Linked DNA regions of Homo sapiens. The protein of the gene in region 1 purifies or fractionates together with the protein of each later gene. This does not show direct contact. Each region holds a gene or a part of one and is shown on either strand. Other genes may lie near its edges.

Evidence for each region.
Region 2: the proteins of SPACA9 (region 1) and ODR4 purify together in Homo sapiens (affinity purification with mass spectrometry; one large-scale study listed by BioGRID and IntAct). This does not show direct contact.

What each region holds. Positions count from the first base shown.
Region 1 is NC_000009.12:132,881,607-132,885,426, forward strand, and holds part of SPACA9 (sperm acrosome-associated protein 9), read left to right. Parts: intron 1-2,304; 5' UTR 2,305-2,341; coding exon 2,342-2,485; intron 2,486-3,820. UniProt on the Homo sapiens protein: Microtubule inner protein (MIP) part of the dynein-decorated doublet microtubules (DMTs) of multiciliated respiratory cells and the distal singlet microtubules of monoflagellated spermatozoa.
Region 2 is NC_000001.11:186,392,627-186,396,446, forward strand, and holds part of ODR4 (protein odr-4 homolog), read left to right. Parts: intron 1-1,320; coding exon 1,321-1,389; intron 1,390-3,820. UniProt on the Homo sapiens protein: May play a role in the trafficking of a subset of G-protein coupled receptors.

The DNA.
Region 1 (3,820 bases):
AATACAAAAAATAGCCAGGTGTAGTGGCACCCACCTGTAATCCCAGCTACTCAAGATGCTTTTTTTTTTTTTTGAGACAGGGTCTCACTGTGTCACCCAGGTTGGAGTGCAGTACTGCGATCATGGCTCACTGCAGCCTTGACCTCCTGGGTTCAAGCGATCCTCCTGCCTCAGCCTCCCAAAGTGCTGGGATTATAGGCATGAGCCACTGTGCCTGGCCTATTTTCATCTTGATTGCCGAGTTTTTTGGCGCCTCCTTAAGTTTTGCATGGGGGCAAGTGTCTCCCTCACCTCACCCTAGTTGGTCCTGGGTGAGCCGGACACCACGGGAGGCACAACAGGAAACCACTGTGCGTGAGTCAGCATGTCTGCTCCATGTGGCAGGGACCAGCCAAGGATATGGCAGGTGTCAATAAACCATGGACCCCCCATCTCATTCCCCACCTTCAGCTCTCCTTTCCATAGGAGGTTGAGCTGGAAAGAGGCCCCTGCCCTGCCTGCCCTGGCCCAGGCCCACCCCCAGGGCAGCTGCGACTGTCCCTGTGTCTGTTGACAGTCACAGTGCTGTGGCTCTGCTGCAGAAGCATACTCTCTTGTCTTTCCAGGAGACTCACTCAGTGGCTCTTAAGGTGGCTCCTCTAAGGCAGCCTTGCTGGCTTTTGGCTCCAGGGATAGAGGCTCCATGGCTGGGCTCCATCTTGCTAAAGGGCCTCTTCCCCAGCCTCCTCCAAGTGCTCTGATGTACCACCCCCATCATCTCGCGGAGGCCATCTCCTGGTCTGTTCTTGTGTTTCCTTTCATTCCTCTGATGCCATCTCTTCTTGCATCAACTGGGATGCTCCCCCTACCCTGCCTCTTTTTTTTTTTTTTTTTTGAGTCAGGGTCTCCCTGTGTCCTAGGCTGGAGTGCAGTACTGCGATCATGGCTCACTGGAGCCTTGACCTCCTGGGTTCAAACTGGACCCCCAGCTCCAGCCCTGCTCTGGACACAGCAGAAAGAAATATTTCCCAGCCCCGTCTTGTTATTCCTATCCACCTGGGACCTGCTTGGAAGCTTGGAATGTGCCTTCCCTGCCCCAGTCCATGCTAAATGTTCTGGCCCCTTCCATCTCCAACATCTCCCTTGGACTGGACCTGAGCTCAGCACAGCCTTCTCTGACCCCTGCTCATGTGGTGACACGTTCGAGCCTGGCCTTTGTTCTGGAGGCAGTGGAGGGGCAGCCGAGTGTGGCAGCACTGACGATGCTGGTTAGACGTAAGGAAGCCTAGGACCCAGGGTGTCTTGGGCACAAATTTGCTGTGACACCCTGGGCAAAACCTTTCCCTCTGAGCCTCACTTTCCCCATAGCAGCTCAAGGGAGCTGGTTTTCTCAGTCCCTTCCAGCTCTAACATGAATAGAAATCTGTGGTCTGGAGCATTTTGCACGCGCTCAGCAAAACTGTGATGTCATGGAGCACACACCCACAGACTTTTCTGCTCACAGGAGGATTGTAGATGCTCTGTGGAGCACCTAAATCACAGCAGGGACAGTCTGTGAGGCGCCAAGAGAGAGTCCTCCCCACAGCCTCCATGTTACTGATCATGGCATTCCAGCAATTAACAGGGTCAGGGGGCAGTCCACTAGCCACCAGCCCTGCCCTGAGAATGCGCAAACCTGAGACCAAGGCTCCTGCCCCCAGCCCAGAGCAGGCAGACTTACATCTTCTCAAACTAGACAGTCTAGTATTGATTCTTCTCCCCGCTTAATCCATGGGAAGGAATTCCCAGACTTTCCCACCAGTTGCAGAGCAGCTTTACAATAATTTGATCCAAACTGATCATCTCCTGGTTTTATATCCTGTGGCATATCCCTTGATCCCAGGTTTTGCTGACACCACAGCAAGGGATTGGAGGGCGTGTGTGTACACGCGTGCGTGTGTGTGTGTATGCATGTACCTGTATGTGTGTGCACATGCATGTGTGTGCGTGTGTGTGTGCGCGCGTGTGTGTAGATACCCACATCTGGAGAAACAGAACCAGAGAAACTCTGTCCACAGCTGAGGGAAGAAGTCACATTTCCTGGCAAAGAATGTGTTCATGGAGGGTAAATTTCGAGGTCAGGCTCAGCTCTGTCATGGACAGCCTGGGGGCTCTGGACAAGTGTGCAGCCTCCCAGGGCCTCGCTTTCTTCTGTGGGGAGGCACTCACAAGGCGCTCCAGTGAGAGGGGCCATGGGTATCCCTCTCCCCTGACAGTCCTTCCCTCCGGAGCTGGATCCGAGCATTGGGTCCCAGGACCTCATCACTATCCTCTGTCTCCCCATAGATTCCTCTTCTCCTGTAAATGACCACAGAGGAAGACAATGAATGAGGTGAAAGAATCCCTTCGCAGCATCGAGCAGAAGTACAAGCTCTTCCAGCAGCAGCAGCTCACCTTCACCGCCGCTCTGGAGCACTGCAGGGAGAACGCCCACGACAAGATCCGGCCCATCTCCAGCATTGGACAGGTGGGGCTCCCGACCCCCACCCCGGCCGAGGGGCAACAAGCCCAGTCCCCTCTCACAAAAGATGAAACCACTGGGGCCCAGAGAGGGGAAGGACGTTTGCGCCAGAATTAGGACCCGGACCCAGAACCTAAATGATGTAATGAGTCCTTCATTCGTTTCTCTACCAAATATGTAAGTGAATAACAACAAGTGAATAAAGAGGCAGGTTTAAAACTCAGCCGGCCAGGGCTTAAGTCCTAGCTCTACCATGTGCCACTGCTGTGATCTCAGGCCAATGACTTCACCTTTCTGTGCCTCAGTGTCCTCATCTGTGACGCAGGTTCAGTGGTCACCCATAGAAAACCAGGGATTTACTGGTGACCAGAGGGATCCTGTCCTTCCCATCAGATTCCACTGGGGGTTGAGGAACTGTGGGATGCCAAGCACACCGCCAGGTGCTTTCGCAGATGTTTTTATTTAACCTGCATCTCCTCCAGGGTTAGCTGCTGTCCAGGTTTGCTGTGCAGGACTTGGAGGCCTCAAGACCAAATGATCCTTCCAGGATGTTAGGGGCTGGAGCTGCAGTGCAGTTAGGAACACACACAGGCCGGCCCTTCACAGCTTGGAGGGAGTCAGCTTGTGGAAGGGTAACTGCCCCAAGATGGGTGGGAACAGGCGCAGGGCTCAGAACTGCAGAGGAGAAACAGGCTCGGGAGGAACAAGCAACCCTTGCTGGCAGCATCCTTTAAAAACATTTTTTTCTGGCCAGGCGTGGTGGCTCATGCCTGTAATCCCAGCACTTTGGGAGGCCGAGGCAGGTGGATCATGAGGTCAGGAGTTTGAGACCAGCCTGACCAACATGGTGAAACCCTGTCTCTACTAAAAATACAAAAATAGCTGGGCGTGGTGGTGCGCATCTGTAATCCCAGCTACTCGGGAGGCTGAGGCAGGAGAATTGCTTGAATCTGGGAGGTGGAGGTTGCAGTGAGCCGATATTGCGCCACTGTACTCCAGCCTGGGCGACAGAGTGAGACTCCGTCTCAAAAACAAAACAAAACAAAACAAAAACAAAAACAAAAAAATGAAAAAAAACACTTTTTTTTTCTAATTTTGGTAAAATGTTTCCTCAATTTTTTAACTCAAAAAAATGTTAAATATAGAGGCCAGACACAGCGGCTCATGCCGGTAATCCCAGCACTTTGAGAGGCCGAGGTGAGTGGATCACCTGAGGCCAGGAGTGGAGACCAGCCTGGCCAACATGGTGAAACCCCATCTTTACTAAAAATCCCAAAATTAGCCAGTTGTGGTGGTACGCGCCTGTAGTCCCAGTGACTCGGGAGGCTGAGGCATGAGAAT
Region 2 (3,820 bases), on another chromosome or scaffold:
GTCAACATGGTGAAACCCTGTGTCTACTAAAAATACAAAAGTTAGCTGGGCATTGGTGGCAGGTGCCTGTAATTGCAGCTACTTGGGAGGCAGGGGCCAGGCGTGGTGGCTCATGCCTGTAATCCCAGCACTTTGAGGGGCCAAGGTGGGCAGATCACTTGAGGTCAGGAGTTCAAGACCAGCCTGGTCAGCATGGTGAAACCCTGTCTCTACTAAAAATAACAAAAATTAGCCGGGTGTGGTGGCAGGTGCCTGTAAGCACAAGCTACTCGGGGTGCTGAGGCAGAAGAATGGCTTGAACCTGGGAGGTGGAGGTTGCATTGAGCCGAGATCGTGCCACTGCACTCCAGCCTTTGGCTACAGAGTAAGACTCCATTTCAAAATAAAAGAAAAGGAAAAGAAGAAAACTAACAGAGGAACAGAAAACCAAATACCGTATGTTCTGACTTATAAGTGGGAGCCAAATGATGAAAACACATGGACACATAGAGGGGAAAAACACACACTAAAAGGAGGGAGAAGGAGAGGATCAGGAAAAATAAATAATGGGTACTAGGTTTAATACCTGGGTGATGAAATAATCCGTATATCAAACCCCCATGACTGAAGTTTATCTGTGTAACAAATCTGCACATGTACTCATGAACTTAAAAGTTAAAAAATAAGTCCAGGAAAAAAAAGAAAATGATGTAATTGGAATCCTGAAACTTTACAGGAGTGTCATCTGAATTTCATCTGATTTCCAAATTGTAAACTGCTGACCTGCAACCAAAGGCCACATGTTGTTCTGCCCTGATGACAGTTCAAAAGCTATGGCCATTTTATAAAAGAGGTTTATAGAGGCTTCTAAAATAGCTTTGACCTGAAGGAAGCGGAACTTTTGTGATCTCTCACTTTTTAAAGCAGGGATCAGCAAACTTTATGTGAAGAGAAAAATACTACATATTTAGATTTCACAGGCTGTATTTTTATCTCTACTGTGTAGCATGAAAGCAGCTACAGGAGATACATAAGTGAATGATCCTGGTTGCATACCGGTAAAACTTTATTTACAAAGATGAGTGGCAATGTGGGTATTTGCCCACAGGCAGTGGTTTGCCAGTTGTTGCTTTAGAGGAATGAAAGTATGGAATTAATTGTTTTAAAGAGTGTACATTGATACAGAATACATAAAGTAATATCTATATAAAAAGCTAAATTAAAATAATTAAAAGACTTGTTTTTTTCTAAGTTACTTAGTATATGTACAATAGTTTATAAGTTGTCTTTTATGTTTTACAGGCTTCACAGTTTGGCTTTTTAACTTTTGTGTTTTTTCAGAAAAAATCTTCTAGAGGAAATACTCAAGCAACTAGTCATTCTTTTGATGTCAGAGTGCTAACGCAGTTGGTAAATATTTTAAAATAACACTTAAAATATTTATTAGCATAACCATAATGAAACTGTTTCTGTTTTTATTTTTCTCATTAGAGAATAAAAGGATTTTAGAGCTGTAAGAGACTGTATGAAATGGCTGGTTATAGGAAGGTTATTCCCAAGAAACATCATTTTAATAAAACCTGTTTGGGTTTTTTGCCTCAAGGATATTAAAATTTTAACATCAATAGATAGCAGTTTAAAAAAATATGTACACATACATGCATACATATACATGTATGTATGTGTACATATTTTGGGTTGTAGCTTTTATAGTTAAAGTTGCAATTTTAACAACTTAAAAGATGTGTACACAGAGGTGCAAAGAGTTGTCATATGCTTATTTTGAAGTAGATTAATTAGATTTATACCCCCTGATTTGATAAAAATCACAAAGTATTAATTAGCAAGTTTTATATTTATGTATGGTTGCTTTAATTTACACGTCTTTTCGAAAATTTAAAAGTTGGATATCTTAAAGAATAAAAAGTTAAAGCCACTAATTATTCCTAAAAATACATACCTTTGATTTTAATCCTACTTGAAATTATCCTAAAGAACAGACAAGGGTATAAAATAGCAAACGCGTGTTTGTAGGAAACTTTATTTCAATATTATACTGGATTTTGAAACAGAAATACTCTCAGGACTTGTGTTTTTTTGAACTGAATAGAATAGAATTAAAAGCAATTTGGCATTTGAGGATGTTTTAGTTTCTTCTTTTTCTGTGTGTAGCAATAGCGCATTAGTAAATTGTCTTTGGGCCTATGCCACTCAATGTGAGTTCTCAATTTCATTTTTCAATACCTTAGAGGTATTTTAGTCTCTGATTTTCTACTTTGTCTTGATTTTAGAAGTGTCCTTTGTTTTGAGGCTGGCTATTCCACTACTTATGTGCTTTTCACTAGTTAGGCTTACTTCATGGTTTATTAAACAATTTGGTTAAGATTATTTTATTAGTAGTATAAAATTGTAGTTGGGAGATGTATAGAGTGTGGGAATATAGAGAGATGAGTGGAAGATAATCTCATGAGATAATTTATTGTAGTAGTAATATTATTGTTATTTTTGAGACGGAGTCTCGCTCTGTCTCCCAGGCTGGAGTGCAGTGGTGCGATCTCGGCTCACTGCAAGCTCTGCCTCCTGGGTTCACGCCATTCTCCTGCCTCAGCCTCCTGAGTAGCTGGGACTACAGGCGCCTGCCACCACACCTGGCTAATTTTTTGTATTTTTAGTAGAGACGGGTTTCACTGTGTTAGCCAGGGTGGTCTCAATCTCCTGACCATATGATCCGCCTGCCTCGGCCTCCCAAAGTGCTGGGATTACAGGCGTGAGCCACCGCGCCTGGCCAGGTGTAGTAATAATATTATATAGTATAATATATTTTTGGTAGTCACTCCACCGATCACCTAACTGGAAATTTTGAAGTGACTAATATACAGTAAGTAGTCAGTAAGTATTTATTGCCACTTTTCTCCCAGTTAAGTCTTATTGATTCCTTATTTGTAGTATTAAGCTTTTCTTTTATTTTCCATACAGTCCTGCTGTCATTAGCCTTACAACAGTATTATTTTACCTAAACTAGCACAAGTAGCCCTTAACTGGTCTCTCTTCATCTATACATTCTTGTCCAAAGTGATTGTTTCTCTAAATCCCTTCTACCTTTGTTAGTATATCTCTTGAAATACTTTCCATTTATCTACTCTATCCTGTTTATACACTCAGATGATCATTTCTGAATCATAGTTTATGTTCAGTTATTAATTTTTTTCAAGAAGTATTTATTGAGTTTGTACAACAGCCGGACACTGATTATGGTACTCCTTGCTCAAAATTTCTTAAGTGTTCTGTACTGACTAGTTAGAGAAGTCCAACTCAGGGTTCTTCATAGCCTCAGCATACCTTTTTGTTCTTATTTTCTACCTCTTATTTTCTAGATGTATGCTTGCCATACCTTTAAAGCTCTGTATTTCCTGAACTATGTATCATGTCTTTGCTCTTTTCTCTGTCACCCAAACTGTCAAAATCCTATCTGTACATTAAGATCTAGCCCAAATGCCACTACTTGTGTAAGATTTCATTTGGTTCCCATAGAAATGGGGATCTTCTCTTTTTCAAATGCCATGTCAGCATCATAGAAGTTCCCTCACCTATAGGCTGTTTGGCAGCCAGGTTATTCCTAAGTCCAAATAACCAAGAGGAGTTTACATTTGTAGACCCCAACTGGTCTACATTTCCACCTAAAAGGAATGAGTCAGACCTTACATTCTTTAAAACTTTTCCTGGCTGAGCATGGTAGCTCATGCCTGTAATCCCAGCACTTTGGGAGGCCTAGGCAGGGTGATCGCTTGAGCCTAGGAGTTCAAGATGAGTCTGAGCAACAAGTGAAACCCTGTCTCTACAA